Linked DNA regions of Homo sapiens: all the other regions are reported to be linked to region 2. Evidence: microRNA targets listed by miRTarBase, many of them from high-throughput screens and not tested one by one. Region 2 holds a microRNA gene; each other region holds the end of a gene's coding sequence.
What was found. Region 2 holds the annotated microRNA hsa-miR-6081 (AGGAGCAGUGCCGGCCAAGGCGCC, at 989-1,012, opposite strand). A microRNA usually pairs through its seed, bases 2 to 8, with sites in the 3' UTR of a target mRNA and lowers its output. Matches are read on the target gene's strand: a 7mer-m8 pairs with bases 2 to 8, a 7mer-A1 pairs with bases 2 to 7 and ends in A, and an 8mer does both.

Region 1 (3,000 bases), not on the chromosome of region 2:
CGTGTATGGTGGTTTTTATCAGATGTATTTATATTCTAGGTGTGGAGTGAAGTTAACCAAGCTGTGCTAGATTATGAAAATCGCGAGTCAACACCCAAACTGGCAAAATTACTGAAACTACTACTTTGGGCTCAGAACGAGCTGGACCAGAAGAAAGTAAAATATCCCAAAATGACAGACCTCAGCAAGGGTGTGATTGAGGAGCCCAAGTAGCGCCTGCGCTTGCGTGGTGGATCCAACACCAGCCCTGCGTCGTGGGACTTGCCTCAGATCAGCCTGCGACTGCAAGATTCTTACTGCAGTAGAGAACTCTTTTTCTCCCTTGTACTTTTTTTTGACCTGGCATCTTTTTATAGGGAAAAATGGCCTTTGTAGGCAGTGGAAAACTTGCAAGGAAAGCTGCCGTCTCTTTGGCAGTCTGATGCAGAGCCTGCACTCTGGCACTCGCTGAAGAATCTGGAAGGTTGCGGTTTGCTCTTCCAGTGTTCGGGGGCCTCTGGCTGCTGAAGGATTCGGTCTACCACGGAGGGCTGTGCTGTTAGGCTGCATCCCACTCAAAATACAGGAAAAGCACGAATCATGATTCTGCTTTCTGTTAGCTTAGGCAGACATTGGGCCTTCACCTACAAGTTTTTCCTTACCCCTGTGGTTTTTGTGTTTTTTTTTTTTTCTTTTTCCATAGGAAAGAATATATAAATTTGTAAATCCTAATTCAAAGATGGCTCATGTGTGAGGGCATTGAGTTTGATTTGTTTTCCCTTTGGTCTGGGTTGTGTGGCTTTTGGGGGATGCGTGTGAGGGGGCTATGTGTTTTTTAATTTTTTAAATATATATTTTGGTGCTGTGTGTGGTAAGAGACTTGTTCCTAGTGGATCAATGAACCATCTCTTCTGGGCAGTTTTGTTGAAAATAAAGGTTTCTCTTTGATTTCAAGAATGACCAAAATGGCCTCTAAAAGATGTTAATCATCTCAAATGACCTTTTGTCTTTGGGGCGTTCTTCCCCCTGTGATAGCGGCAGTGGCTTTTTCTGGTACCTGCAGCTGGAAAGGCCACTTGGCCCTGTGCTGAGTGAGCGGCCTTCATTAGAGCGAGGCAGCCCTTGGCCGGTGGGGACGCAGAGCCCCAGCAGGTGGTGCACGACTGTTGGCGGAAGGAACGCGTGTTCATCCTCAGTGATCTGCCCTCCAGCATCTCGGCAGCATCTCATCCTCCATCGTCAGCTGGCTCTGCCGATGTCCTGCTTCTGTTCACTCACAGAACTGTCCCCTGCTCCGTGGTGGGCAGGAGGGAAGTGGTGCAGGGCTGCGTGCATTGCCTGCGAGTCGGGACAGTTGATGGGCACATGGCCTTGTAGCTCTGGGCACAGATGTGTTTGGATTCATTGCAGCGGACCACCGGGCACTGTTGACCCCACTGAGCAGTGCTAAGTGTTGGTTTAGTGGATGTTCGTGGAATTGCTGACCCATCCAAGGGCGTCCTTTGGAGCCAGTGGAGCCTGCCGGCGCATCTGAGGGGCAGAATGCTGCTAGCACTTGAATCTGGGATCTCGCCTTATTCTCAAGTAGCAAGGCATCTCGACAAGCATGGTCTAGGTCTGGTGGCCAGCTTGCCAGTACCTGAGCCGGTCGGGTCATCTGCCTCTGAGGGACCGTCCTCACCGAGCTCCTGCATCCCTTGAGTGTTGATCAGGAGGCGTCCACAGCATTGTTCTCGCCTCTGAATGATGCTTCTTTCTGTGTTGGAGCCTGGCGAAGTTGTGTTTTCAAGCCCTCTACTTCTCTTTCCAGTGGGTAGGAGCTTTTGGCAGTGTTTACTTTACCTAGATGGCTTATATAATCCAGTAAGAGATGCAAAGATAAAATTGCTGCGGTTGTTACAGAAGCATGGCGGCCTCCAGACTGACCCATTGGTTGCCCTTTAGATTTTGTAAGGATGCGGTGCTGGGGAGGTGGTGCTTCCCTACCCCCTAGAAATGCTGCCTTCCAACTACCACTCTCCCAGATGTGACCCTTGCGATTATTTCCTCTGAGGTTTGAGGATGAAGATAAGTTGGAGGGAAAGAGAGTAACTAATAGGGGATGAAATATAGCAGAAGCTAGAAGAAAGCGGTGAGGTGAGAGAGATGCATCTGCACGTTTTCTTCAACAGCACCAGGTGATTCAGCATATTCCTAATTACCTTTCACTATTCGTGTATATAAGATCGTTTACTTGCATAATATATCATCAATTTGACATATTCTTAAAACTAGAGGGTGTGAGAAGCACAGCAATAGGAAGTCTCTCCACAAACTAGGGGAACACAAATGGGGTCATTCACGTGCCTGGACTGTCACTATGTGGCTGTCACGTGAAGTGCTGGTGTTGATTTCCATTTCAGCCAGTGGGTAGCTGATAAGCCAGTGCCAGCATCCAGCATGAGCAGATGTCGGGGAGACTGGGAAGTCTCCAGCGTTACTGCTCTCCTTCCCTTCATGATAAGCCAGTGCCAGCATCCAGCGTGAGCAGACGTCGGGGAGACTGGGAAGTCTCCGATGTTACTGCCTGCCTTCCTTTCGTGTGAGGGGCTGCACTTGCTTTTCTTGTGATCTGTTAGTGGACGAGGTCTTCCAAGGAAGTGCTTTGCACACTTTCTTTGCTCCTTTTTACAGTCTTTGTCTTTGCAGCAAGCAAATGAAATTAAGCCACTTTGGGATAATGAACATTCAGTATAATTCTACTTTGTCTCATTTTGGATCTCACTGTTGTCTTTATAAAAATGGCACATTTTACAAAGTAGTTTATTCTTATTATACTTTCTGCTGGAGAGTGCCTTGAAATAAAATGTGAGAGTATTCTGGTACTCTGTGTTCCAGATGCATGAAATTGGGTGAGGAATAACCCCTAGTCTGGAATCTTTGTGAAGCATAGGGTTATTGCAAGGCAAATGGGAACTAACACATCTTGCCATTTGAATCAGGGTCTCCAGTTTCTAGAAAAGGCAGACACTGGTTGGGACC
Region 2 (3,150 bases):
TAAACAAAACACAATCTTCAGGAACAACACAGGAAATTATTTATCTAAAAAAGAAAGTTCTTTGTGATTTTAGATCAGCTTTTTAAAAAAAAAATCCCTTTATCACAGTATAACAGGGGAGATGCTGTTGCAGGCTTTCCACAGGAAAGTTCCAGAGGCACTGAATTGAATAACAGAAAGAAAACCCTAAGAAGGATGTACTGAGAGACAGACCGTCCTGACTTTGAAAGAATGTTCTGAAACATCGATTAAATGTTTCATAAACCAAATAAGACAAAGAAAAAATGCACAAATAAAACCAGAGAACTCTATTCTTTCTCCTATCATAAAAAGCAGATGGTGTAAAAAGATATGTCTAAAGTAACTAAAGACAATTACCCCAATCCCTTTTTTCAATCTATACCCACCTTTTAAACTCTAGAAAAGGAATAATGCTCTGTCAAAGGGACAGCCATGACCCTCACAAGCATGGTCTCAGCTTTCTAAAAACCTGAAGTCACACTATTCACAGGCCATGTTCTAAAGTTCAGACTCATCGGTATCTGGCCTCTTGATCTGTAACCTAAGGTTGATGGCATCAATGGGCCAGTAAGCCAGACCCCTGTACCTGCAATCATACTGTGAGAAACGGCCTAATGCTGAGCTTCTGTGGGTTGCCAGGTGGAGGTGGCAAGTGTCAACTTGCCCTTTTGGGATCCCGGGGGGACCTGGTTCCTTGTATTTTACCCTATAAAAGCATTTCACTAATTGCACACACTACTCTGACACTCCACAATGGTGTTCTTTTTCATGTTCAATCTGAAAACCTGCCTTGTAGGGCTCTGTTCCACAATGGTGTCTCCTGACAATGCTGGATGATGACGTGGTGAGCCAGCTGGCTTAGTAATGAGGCCCTGGATTCGCCTGCACCAAGGGCAGCCAGCAGGAGAAGGGGAGGAGAGGAAAAGGGGGCCTGGGTGGGCCCCCTGGACATCACCAAGATGGTGCCGGCGCCTTGGCCGGCACTGCTCCTATTCATAAGCCTCGGTGTCCTACGGGGCAGAGGCCCTGGTGCCAGCACCGTGGTGGGAGAGGCAGAGCTGGGTGCTGCCCTCACACACCACGATGACAGGACCTGACGTCAGCATAGCCAGAGTTTCTGCCTTTATTACGCTTAGACTCTGGATCAAGGCAGACAAGAGGAAGGACTTCTAAGTTCAGCACACTACATATTAATAAATCTAAAGCATCGAGCATCCTGAAACAGCAACAGAGCCCAAAGAGATTATATCTAACCTTTCCTCTAAGCCACTCTGTAACAAAACAAAATAGAAATGTCTTACTTATTTGTAGCCAGAATACTATGAAAAAGCAACCAGGGAAGAAAAAGAAGCTCCAACAGCAGGGAAAAGACCCTCCTGAACATTTCACATCTCCAAGCCCTCCAAAGCAGAAGACGAAAGTCATCTCTAATGGAAAGAGTTCTAGCACTGAAAGGAACGAACAGAACCACAACTATGGATCAATTTTAGAATCTGGAGATGTAACAACCATCAAACCTTCATTCTTTGCCCCTTTGGTAAGTTCCTCTAGAGTTCTATTAATCATTAAGTGCTTGAGTCACAGAACTATGCTTTTGGCCCAAATGAAATTCATAAATGAGCATTAAAGCTGTCACATGATTGTGTTGCTGGACTCACAACTTCCACCTTTGGACTGCAAATAAATGCTATGGTGCTTTCTTCCCAAGTAAACAATGTATTAGTAACAGCATATTAAGATAAATACCAGCTTGTGGACCCGCCCCCTGACCAATGGCTTGTGTACGATGCATCAAAAGAGGTAGACGAGGCCAGGCGCGGTGGCTCACGCCTGTAATCCCAGCACTTTGGGAAGCCAAGGCAGGTGGATCATGAGGTCAGGAGTTCGAGAACAGCCTGGCCAAGATGGTGAAACCCCGTCTCTATTAAAATACAAAAAATTGGCTGGGCGTGGTGGTGGGCACCTGTAATCCAGCTACTCGGGAGGCTGAGGCAGAACTGCTTGAACCTGGGAGTTGGAGGTTGCAGTGAGCCAAGATCGTGCCACTGCACTCCAGCCTGGGAGACACAGCGAGACTCCGTCTCAAACATACAAACAAAAAAGAGGTAGAGGAGACCTAGACCCATTACACAGGGTCTGCAGGGCCTCTTCAGCTACTGCCCGTGCTACGGGACAGGCCTGTGACGCTGGTCGTTTTTTCCATTTCCAATCAACCTGGAGTTTCCTTTCTATCCTGGAAGGCAGCCGGATGAGTGCTGAAACAGGTATGCCCTTACAATCTGTTTCCTCACATTCACTTGCTCCTACTAGTTTAGTTTGCAATTCTACATGAAAGAGTGGAGCCTCCCAAGGTTACATTCTTTGGCACTTTGGGAGAGTATAGCTGTCTTAGGGTGGCCTCTAAATGTTGTTAGCAAGCTTTTTCTAGCTACTCCCCTCTGTGCTGACACCTTACTAAGTTGAGATTTTTTTTTTTTTTGAAACTGCCTTTTGTCAATTAGCTGTAGTCAGTCAGCAGGAAGAGCCGCTCACGTGCACACGAGCACCTGGGGCCAGGCATGAGGGCCAGACCCTGAAGGGAGACCTCCAGTGAAGCAGCACCCCGGAGAAGACACAGTCACAACACACGATACCCACACTTTCTTGCTCCAATCCAATCTCGGAGTCCTCTTCCTTTCAATCAACACTATTTCCCCCACACAGTGAAGGGAAGAACGGGTGCTACCAAATTCTCCCAGAAAACTAATGTTCTTATTAAGCATATCAACCAAACTCAAAGCAGGGCACGCTGCAGCATGGGCCTTTCGGATTCGTGGCCACCAGCAAAACAACACAGGGGGAGCCCATCCCCTGAGGCATGGCCCCAGTCTGAAAGCGCTCAGTGGAGTCTGCAGAGATCTGAAAGCGCTCAGTGGAGTCTGCGGAGATCTAAAAGCGCTCAGTGGAGTCTGCGGAGATCTGAAAGCGCTCAGTGGAGCCTGCAGAGATGCTGCTGCCTGAAGGTCAGTCATGGACTTCCTGGGGGAAAGAGGTCAGAAAGGCAAGGTCCAGGGATCCTCATCTCACTGCCATGGGTAGCTATTTTTACAGCTTAAGAGACCTGCTAAGGCAGGCAGGAAATGTGTTACT
Region 3 (3,000 bases), not on the chromosome of region 2:
TTATTGCCGCTCCGACCCATAGCACGCTGCCTACTGCACACACATGGTAGGTATCTGCCCGCCTGATGCATGCCCAGTGTTTTTGGTGGTATGAGTTAATCACTTCTCCCTTGCCCTTCCAGTTTTAACCAGCTGTGCCTCCCTACATATGACTCCTATGAAGAGGTGCACAGGATGCTGCAGCTGGCCATCAGCGAGGGTTGCGAGGGCTTTGGCATGCTCTGACCACTCTCCTGTCATCCAGTTGGCTCCCATGCTCTCTGGAGCTTCTGGGCGCAAGTTACAGACATCATAACCACTGATCCTAACACACATAACCATCAGCCAGAAGATGCCGCATGCTCCCCTGTGTCTGGAGGATTTTGTCACCTACAAGCCTTGTCTTTACCTCACCTGCTCCCTGCCCATATCTACCACAGGCCACTTTGGCATGGTATGTAAGCTGAGCTCTTCATTCTGTCATGAGAAGAGGACCATGCTGCTATCATTTATTTGGTCCTTTGAAGATCTCAGTAGCTGAGGGAGATGGCACACGGGGCTCAGCCCTGTTGGGAAACTGGTGTGGAGACCCTTAAATCCACACTGTGCTCCAAAACTCCCTCTGCTGATACTCCTTGGAGACACCCTCTTTGGCCCTCACTACTTGACCAGACTGGTACTTGAGTCCTTCTCATGGGTGGGGTGATTGCCTCTTCTCATCAGGAGCCAGGAGAGAGGGGGACAGATAGGAGGTGGCCCATAGGAGCAGTCCCGCTGCACAATGGTAGGCATAGGCCATGGCACTGGACTGCCTCTAAGGACTGCTAAAAAGAATATTTTTTTGTGGTGTCAGAACTGGAAAAAGCACTTTCCCTTCGGGCATTTCTGGAAATGATTATTAATCCACAAAGAAGAACTCTGTAAGCTTTTTCTTGAATTGTAGCCAGTGAGAAAAGCAGATAGACTGAAGAATATGAAGGATAGCTGAGCTGTAGCCTCCAGAGTGGGGCATGCCTAGGCATATGGCTGGCTTGGAGACTACTGATGCTTTTCCCTGAGTTTGTTATTGGCACTGAAGTATGGCCGGCTTGGGCCACTGACTTCCCCATTATGTAGTCTGCTAAAAGCTGGGGATCCTTTAGCATTCTACTGAAGAAAATTTTGTAGCAAAAGATTAGAACAGTAAGAATAGTATGCCAGCAATCCCTGATTCTCTCTCTGCTTGGTGTTCTCTGGCAGCACTAAGACAAAGGAACAGGGACTAGGAGTTTACGTGCTTATCACAGGTCCTTGGCGTCAGGACACTAGGGATGAACATGGAGGTGATATGTTACACAGTAAACACCTGCCAACCCCTGTACTCCCCTTTGCTCCATCAGTTATCAGGAAGGAGAACTAAGGAGGGAGGAAGCTTATTAGGTTCACTGTTGAATGATGATTGAAGAGTACCTGCTGCTGTATCTTGGAAGATGACAACATCCTTTTTCATTACTGTTTGATTGAAAATAATTTCAAGATTCAAAATCTCATTGACTTCCCAAATTTGTGTTTTTAAGAAGGCTTTGCTGCAAGCTACCATTCCCAATGGGGCAGTCAACTCTGAGAATATTACAAGCCATCTTTATTGCCAAAACCAGCAAGTACACAGAGTCCTGAAACAAGGCAGGACTTTGGCAATGCCTTGGCCTCCTGGAAGCATGTCTGAGCCCTCCTGTTCGCAGGGATCATGAGGAACAAGCCCTCCTGAGCTGCTACAGTTCCTGCCTGACCTCAGTCTTTCGCAGTCATCATTTGTCCTTTCTTGGCACATGGGTGCTGACCTCACTCATCCTTGGGGTCCGGGATCCAGCATCAGGGTCTCTATACCCCAGGATCCTCCATGCCACATGGTCACTGCTCTCCTCAGGGACCAGGACAAGGTGCTGCTGCTTGCCCAAATGTTTTCCCATGGGATATGTACCGGAAGGTTTATCACCACCCTGGGAAACATAATGCTGCCCCTTGGGCCCAGAAAGGGGTTTCCAGCTGGGGGCACGTGGACTGGTTCTGCTGTTTTTGGCAGTCGCTTTTCTGAATTCTCCCCTCCGGCAGCCTTCCAGAGACTGATCCTGGAGATTGAGTTGATTGTCTTGGCTAGACCTGTCATTTTAAGCTCTAGTCATAGCACTTTTTCAGAGCATCTTAGGCACCATTGCAACCCAACCAGGGAAGCTGCATCCCTGTGGTGGTCCTTAGGCACCAGTCTTTGTTAAACAAAACCCTTTGGCACTATTGTGGTTTTCTATTCTCTGTCTGAACTCTATTCAAAAGTATCTTTGCTCTCTTGGGCCTTTTCTTTTACTGTTTTGTTTTTTTTTTTTCTAATCCTGCTTTCATACTAGCCAGTGTGGGGAAAAGGTACAATATGTCAAAGAGATGAGAGAGTGTTATTTCTTGGGCAATTTTCTATTAGTGTTTCTTATTTTGGCCAGTTCTTTTATTTATGTCCTTGTGACCCAGGTACTTGGGGGGCCAGCTACCCTTCTGGCCTTTTAGCGTCTTTGAAGGAGACCAGACATGAGTGAATACCTAGGAGAGTGTCAGCATGTTTCTGGAAAATTGGCAGAGACCAAGCCCTGCTGCAGATTCGTCAGGCCAGGTGAAAGGGCCAGGCAGTTGCAGCTGATGATGTAAATATTTTGTACAGTAGATAAATAAATGTTTAAAAGAACTAAGGAGTGAGTGGCTGCTTTAAATGGAGATTCATGGCTTGACTGGAAGGTGGGGAAGGAAAAGATTTGGAAATGATTTTGCATTTCCCCAGGAATTCCTCCTGAAGTGGTCGGCTCGGGGTAGAGTGTACACCTGGAGTCCTGGCCTGTCCCACTCTTGCCCTTTCACCCTTCCCTGATTGCTGTCCATGGTGCCAGGCAGGGCCACTGTCTCAGCCATGGGGAGACGAGGACAAGTGTTTATGCTCAGTTTCTGAAGAAGGAACCGGTTAATCAGTCTTTAAACAATAATTCATTGTTGTTTTACTAC
Region 4 (3,000 bases), not on the chromosome of region 2:
TGGGGTGGGGGCCGGCCTGGGGACGCGGCCGGCCCTGCCTCGTCTTCTACCACGGCACCCGCCCCGCGCTCCTCGCGGCCCACGGAGAAGGCGTTCACGGTGCCCATCACGGATGTGACGGAGAACGCCCTCAAGGACCTGGACGACGTCATGAAGACCACCAAAATCATCATCGGCTGCTTCGTGGCCATCACGTTCATGGCCGCGGTGATGCTCGTGGCCTTCTACAAGCTGCGCAAGCAGCACCAGCTCCACAAGCACCACGGGCCCACGCGCACCGTGGAGATCATCAACGTGGAGGACGAGCTGCCCGCCGCCTCGGCCGTGTCCGTGGCCGCCGCGGCCGCCGTGGCCAGTGGGGGTGGTGTGGGCGGGGACAGCCACCTGGCCCTGCCCGCCCTGGAGCGAGACCACCTCAACCACCACCACTACGTGGCTGCCGCCTTCAAGGCGCACTACAGCAGCAACCCCAGCGGCGGGGGCTGCGGGGGCAAAGGCCCGCCTGGCCTCAACTCCATCCACGAACCTCTGCTCTTCAAGAGCGGCTCCAAGGAGAACGTGCAAGAGACGCAGATCTGAGGCGGCGGGGCCGGGCGGGCGAGGGGCGTGGAGCCCCCCACCCAGGTCCCAGCCCGGGCGCAGCCTGACCGGGACCCCTCCCTCCCACAGCCCAGCCCACCTTCTGGGACCACGCAGGGAATTGGGGAGAGGTGGCTTCCAGCCCCATCTGGGGCTCGGACCCCCAGTAAGGACAGGGTGGGGCTCCAGGAGCGGAGTCTCTGGGATCCTCGCCTCACCCCCGCCAATCCCCGGTGACGGGAGGGGACGTGGGACCCAGGAGAAGTGGCCTGAGTTCTCCGCGTTTCCTCCTCGCTCTCCCACCAAGCGTTCCGGGCCCGCCGCCTTCCAGGGGAGAGAGGAGCTTTCTCCAGGGGTGTCCTTTCCCCTCGGCCCCAAACACCTTCCTTTTACGGTTCAGTTTTTGCAGTTTGACGCCCGTCCCTCCCTCCCACTCCTCCGCCCTCAAAACTGAAGAGATGGACACGTCGCCAGAGCTCCCGTCCCAGCGCCCGGCTCTGCTCCCGGCCGGCGGTCCCTGTCGTCGGCGCGGGGGGGAGCCTCCACCCGCCCCAGCCCCACCTGCCCCACAGACACTTTTGATACTGAAGGGAGGTTTGCGTCAACGACTACCTGCTCTGTAATTACTTTAAAAAAAAAACATGGAAAAAGTAAAAAAATATTTTTTTTGGTCATGAAAGCACGGAGGAGAGAAAACAAAGTGAATGTGGGTGGGGGCGGAAGGAGAGGCTGGAGAGCCAGCCTCGCAGCTCCGTCGGGAGGGTGGGCACGGGGCACCTCCGGGTGGTCTTAGGCCCCTCAGCCTTCACCCTGGAGACCCCAGAGAAGGTCTGATTCCCTTTCTTCCTAAACTCCTCCCCCAGCACCGCCACACCACACCCAAACCCAGGTGGAGACTTATAACAAAGGAAATCTATCGTCCCACAGTTCTGGAGGCTGGAGGGAGGGCCACGCTCTCTCTGAAACCTGGGGATACCTCAGGGGAGCTTCCTGCCTCGCCAGCTTCTGGTGTCCCCAGGCTGTCCTGGCTGGTGGCTGTATCACATCACCCCAGTCTTCCAGTGCCTGCCCCTGTAGCCTCTCATCTCTTCCCTCTGTGTGCGTCCGTCTGTGTCCAACTCCCCCTCTTTTATTTATTTATTTTTTAATTGAGATGGAGTTTTATTCTTGTCGCCCAGGCTGGAGTGCAATGGTGTGATCTCAGCTCACTGCAACCTCTGCTTCCCAGCTTCAAGTGATTCTCCTGCCTCAGCCTCCCAAGTAACTGGGATCACAGGCATGCGCCACCAGGCCTGGCTAATTTTTGTATTTTTAGTAGAGATGGGGTTTCACCACATTGGCCAGGCTGGTTTCGAACTCCTAACCTCAGGTGATCCACTCACCTCAGCCTCTCAAAGTGCTCGGATTACAGGCATGAGCCACCGCGCCTGACCGTTTTCTTTGTTTGTTTCTTTGTTTTTGAGACAGAGTCTTGCTCTGTTGTCCAGGCTGGAGTGCAGTGGCACAATTTCAGCTCACTGAAGCCTCTGCCTCCCAGGTTCAAGCGAATCTCCTCCCTCAGCCCCCTGAGTAGCTAGGATTACACGCGACTACCACCACACCCAGCTAATTTTTGTATTTTTAGTAGAGACGGGGTTTCACCATGTTGGCCAGGCTGGTCTCGAACTTCTGACCTCAAGTGATCCACCTGCCTCAGCCTCCCAAAGTGTCGGGACTATAGGTGTGGGCCACTGCAGCCTGCCTAACCTCCCCTCTTACAAGGACAGAGGTCAGACTGGACCAGGAGCCTCCACCTCCAGTATAACCTCAGCTCCATCCTTGGCAAAAACCCAATTCCCAAATAAGGTCCCATTCTGAGGCCCTGGAGGTCAGGACTTCTGCGCTTCCCTTTCTGGGTGACAATTCAACCCACAACAGGGCCCAATCCAGAGTGTGTCTCTCCACTGCAGACCCCCTCAAGGCTGCTCCAGAGGACGGGGTGCCGAAGGGGAGGGAGGCCAAGCGGGAGGCTGGGCCTGCGGCCTCTGGGGCACAGCAGCTGTATTTCTGGCCGGTTCAGTGGGAGGCTGGAGGGCCGGATCGGGTGGGCCTGGGGCGGCAGGGGCACCACAGTGCCACTCAGAAGGGCAGGAGCAGAGCCCTGGGAGGGCAGGGAGCAAACCCTGAGCGGGCCTGGCTGGGGGGTTGCTGGCACAGTGGGCAGCTGTTGGGTGGGTTGGGGGAGGGGGTGGTGATGTCTCTTGGGGGGTCAAGGTGCCCGAGTTGCAGGCCCTGGAGGGCTGGGGCTGGCCAGGGCTGCCATCTCACGCTGCTGGGGGAGGCAGAGGGAGGGACGGAGCCATGCAGGGCCTTCCAGTGCTTTCCCACGCTGAGGTGGCTTCGGGGACACAGCCCTGAGGACACACAGGCCTGCGCCCAGCC
Region 5 (3,000 bases), not on the chromosome of region 2:
CATGAGATTGTATGTCTAATTCTGCAAGATCCTGAAGGCATGGCTCTTAAAGGATGCCATCATGTAGTTTAGAAGCCACTAATTTCCGAGGAGTAATCTAATGTTGGTTAGATCTTTGGATTGACTGCAGCAAAGTATTGGTAGAGCAGTCTATCTCAGTATAATTCTTTCTAGGAAAATTTGGGAAGCGACTTTAACACAAAAACGAGGCAGATTTACTTATTTGCCATTTTCTATGTTAACATGCTTAATTATGTTGGAAACTGAATCTTTCTTTCCAGTACCACTTCCGCTGTCACGGTAAAGTCCGCCATCAGAAGACTGAAGGAGTTGAAAGACCAGTAGACGCTCCTCTACTCTTTGAGACATCACTGGCCTATAATAAATGGGTTAATTTATGTAACAAAATTGCCTTGGCTTGTTAACTTTATTAGACATTCTGATGTTTGCATTGTGTAAATACTGTTGTATTGGAAAAGCATGCCAAGATGGATTATTGTAATTCAGTGTCTTTTTTAGTAGTCAAATGGTAAAATGCAGCATAAGAATATAAGTCTTCCAAGTTAGATATGAGTGTTAGCTTTTTATAAGTCTGCTCCTGCCAGTTTGACTTTGAGATACATTGGAGCCAACTGTAAACTTTAGTTTTTAAATTACAGTTAGTTTTTTTGTTTGTTTTTGAGGCGGAGTCTCTGTTACCCAGGCTGGAGTGCAGTATACCAGTCTTGGCCCACTTCAACCTCCACTTCTTAGGTTCAAGCGATTCTCCTGCCTCAGCCTCCTGAGTAGCTGGGATTACAGGCACGCACCACCATACCTGGCTAATTTTTGTATTTTGAGTAGAGATGGAGTTTTCACCACATTGGCCAGGCTGTTCTTGAACTGACCTCAAGCGATCCACCTGCCTTGGCCTTCCAGAGTGCTGGGATTACAGGTGTGAGCCACCACGCCCAGCCTTGCATTTAATATTTTTATAATGTGTCTAGGCTGGGTGCGGTGACTCACGCCTGAAATCCCAGCACTTTGGGTGGCTGAGGCAGGTGGATTACTTGAGGCCAGGAGATTGAGACCAGTGTGGCCAACATAGCAAAAACCCGTCTCGACGAAAAATACAAAAAATAGCTTGGTATGGTGGCACATGCCTGTAATCCCAGCTACTTTGGAGGCTCAGGCACAAGAATCACTTGAACCTACGAGGCGGAGGTTGCAGTGGGCCAGGATCGTGCCACTGCACTTTATTTAGCCAGGACAACACTCTGTCTCCAAAAAAAAGTTTCTGAAGGTAAAAGATATACTAAAGGATATACATATACTGCCTCTTCTATGATGTTTCATTTGACCTACACCATCAGCATCTTCAGGAAACAGTATGAAACTAATTTCACATTAAATGTTGCAAACGTCTGCAATTCTCCAGTTTTTAGTTTGCACGTAAGGATTCGTAGGATTGATTTCAGATTGACAGATGGTTGTAGTAACAAAAAAATGAATTGCCTTGGAGAATTCGAGTTATTTTAGGCCTGCCTTTGACACTTTTATGCACTTAATTCACTGCCAATTTAGTCTAACTCCTCAACCATCTGTGGTATGGACTTCTCAGTCCTCCTAATTGGTATGTCTTTTATCTATCCCAGAGTCAGTAGTCCTTTAAGGATGCAAATTTAATTCGATAAGAATGTGGATTTACTTCATCTTTAGGACAGAGTAAAAACCTTTATTTCACTTGGTCTGACCCCTATCTTCTATAACTTGTTTTTTTGCTCATTACTGGCCTTTGCACGGATGTCTCCCTTCACCTGTACCTCCTGCATTGCCTCTGGCAGAAACATCGCTACCCCAGGAGAATACTTCACTGGGTCAGGCATTTGCTAGATCCATAGCAGTAACTCATCTGTGGATCTCATTTGTGTCACAAAATGGTACTCCTACTGATTTTGTAATGTGAAGCAAGTACTGTGGGTCAGTAGGGGTAGGACCAGGAGTGACAAGTCAGGATTTTCAGGCTTCATAGGAATGACACAGCTCTCCAGGTGAATCTCCTGGAGAATTCTCCATAGGATCTCCAGGTGAGTGACCAGGATTTCATGTAAGCATAGGGAATTGAATGAGCATTAGATGGTCTAATGCTGCGGTTAAGAACACCAACTTAGCCAAACTGCCTAGATAGTTGGGTGACTTGGGTTAAGTGACTTAACCTCTCTGCTTCAGTTTCCTGTATAATTCTTGGTAGTAGAATGGAGTATATGCTGGGTGTTTGGATTATTAATTTGGAGTCTTACAAAGCTGCTATGTTACATGATTAGGCATGGAAAACTTCGGTTTTTATAATCAGTGAAGTACTGCTTTTTGTTTGTTTTCTGAGAGAGTGTCTGTCACCCAGGCTGAAGTGCAGTGGCATGATCTCAGTTCACTGCAGCCTCTACCTCCCGGGTTCAAGCAGTTCTCGTGCCTCAGCCTCCGAAGTAGCTGGGATTACAGGCTTATGCCACAAAGCTCAGCTAGTTTTTGTATTTTTTATTTTTAGTAGAGATGGGCTTTCGCCATGTTGACCAGGCTGGTCTCAAACTCCCAGGCTCAACTGATAACGTCTGCCTTGGCCTCCCAAAGTGCTGGGATTCTGTAAGCCACCTCACCCAGCCATGTATTGCTTTTTTATGACAGTTAAAAGAGGAAAGGGCGGGGGACAGTTTACAGACCAGTGAAAGTGCTGAGATAAATATTTTTATACCTAAGGAAATAGTGATTTTCCCAAGATGATAGGGAGGCAGGTGATGTAGATAGGGCTGAAGATTAGATTTCTGGCTCCTATCTGTGATTTTCTGCTGTACCAGTCTGCCTTCTATTTTATGGGCTCAGTATTCCTTACCTGCCTCTTCCCATGCTAAAGATGGCCCACCTTCGTTTTGTTATTTAAGCAACTTCATCCCCTGGCTTGTTTTCACAGTGGTTTTCTGAGCCTTTGACTCTAAGTCATCTAATTGAACATTGTGTTGTGATATA

Region 1: the mRNA of GID8 is a reported target of hsa-miR-6081. Seed matches in the 3' UTR shown: 7mer-m8 at 1,269-1,275.
Region 3: miRTarBase lists AREL1 as a target of hsa-miR-6081. Seed matches in the 3' UTR shown: 7mer-m8 at 394-400, 7mer-A1 at 586-592 and 7mer-A1 at 1,348-1,354.
Region 4: miRTarBase lists LRRC4B as a target of hsa-miR-6081. Seed matches in the 3' UTR shown: 7mer-m8 at 1,077-1,083.
Region 5: miRTarBase lists RPL37A as a target of hsa-miR-6081. Seed matches in the 3' UTR shown: 7mer-m8 at 593-599.

What each region holds. Positions count from the first base shown.
Region 1 is chr20:62,944,700-62,947,699 of GRCh38, forward strand. GID8 (GID complex subunit 8 homolog) reads left to right here. Exons shown (of 5, transcript NM_017896.3): 5 at 40-3,000. The coding sequence ends at 213. Among named protein-coding and RNA genes, the nearest start is that of SLC17A9, 6.5 kb to the right of the region's middle.
Region 2 is chr9:95,063,268-95,066,417 of GRCh38, reverse strand. MIR6081 (microRNA 6081) reads right to left here and starts at 1,068; the gene lies at 972-1,068. All of the region lies in intron 14 of AOPEP (aminopeptidase O (putative)), which reads right to left. RefSeq lists an enhancer at 2,931-3,150.
Region 3 is chr14:74,660,945-74,663,944 of GRCh38, reverse strand. AREL1 (apoptosis resistant E3 ubiquitin protein ligase 1) reads left to right here. Exons shown (of 20, transcript NM_001039479.2): 19 at 1-46; 20 at 123-2,689. The coding sequence ends at 225. Among named protein-coding and RNA genes, the nearest start is that of LTBP2, 50 kb to the right of the region's middle.
Region 4 is chr19:50,515,150-50,518,149 of GRCh38, reverse strand. It overlaps LRRC4B (leucine rich repeat containing 4B), which reads left to right. Exons shown (of 3, transcript NM_001080457.2): 3 at 1-1,258. The coding sequence ends at 579. All of the region lies in intron 1 of LOC124904747 (a long non-coding RNA gene), which reads right to left. Among named protein-coding and RNA genes, the nearest start is that of ASPDH, 2.7 kb to the right of the region's middle.
Region 5 is chr2:216,501,060-216,504,059 of GRCh38, forward strand. It overlaps RPL37A (ribosomal protein L37a), which reads left to right. Exons shown (of 4, transcript NM_000998.5): 4 at 282-3,000. The coding sequence ends at 345. Among named protein-coding and RNA genes, the nearest start is that of RPL37A, 3.7 kb to the left of the region's middle.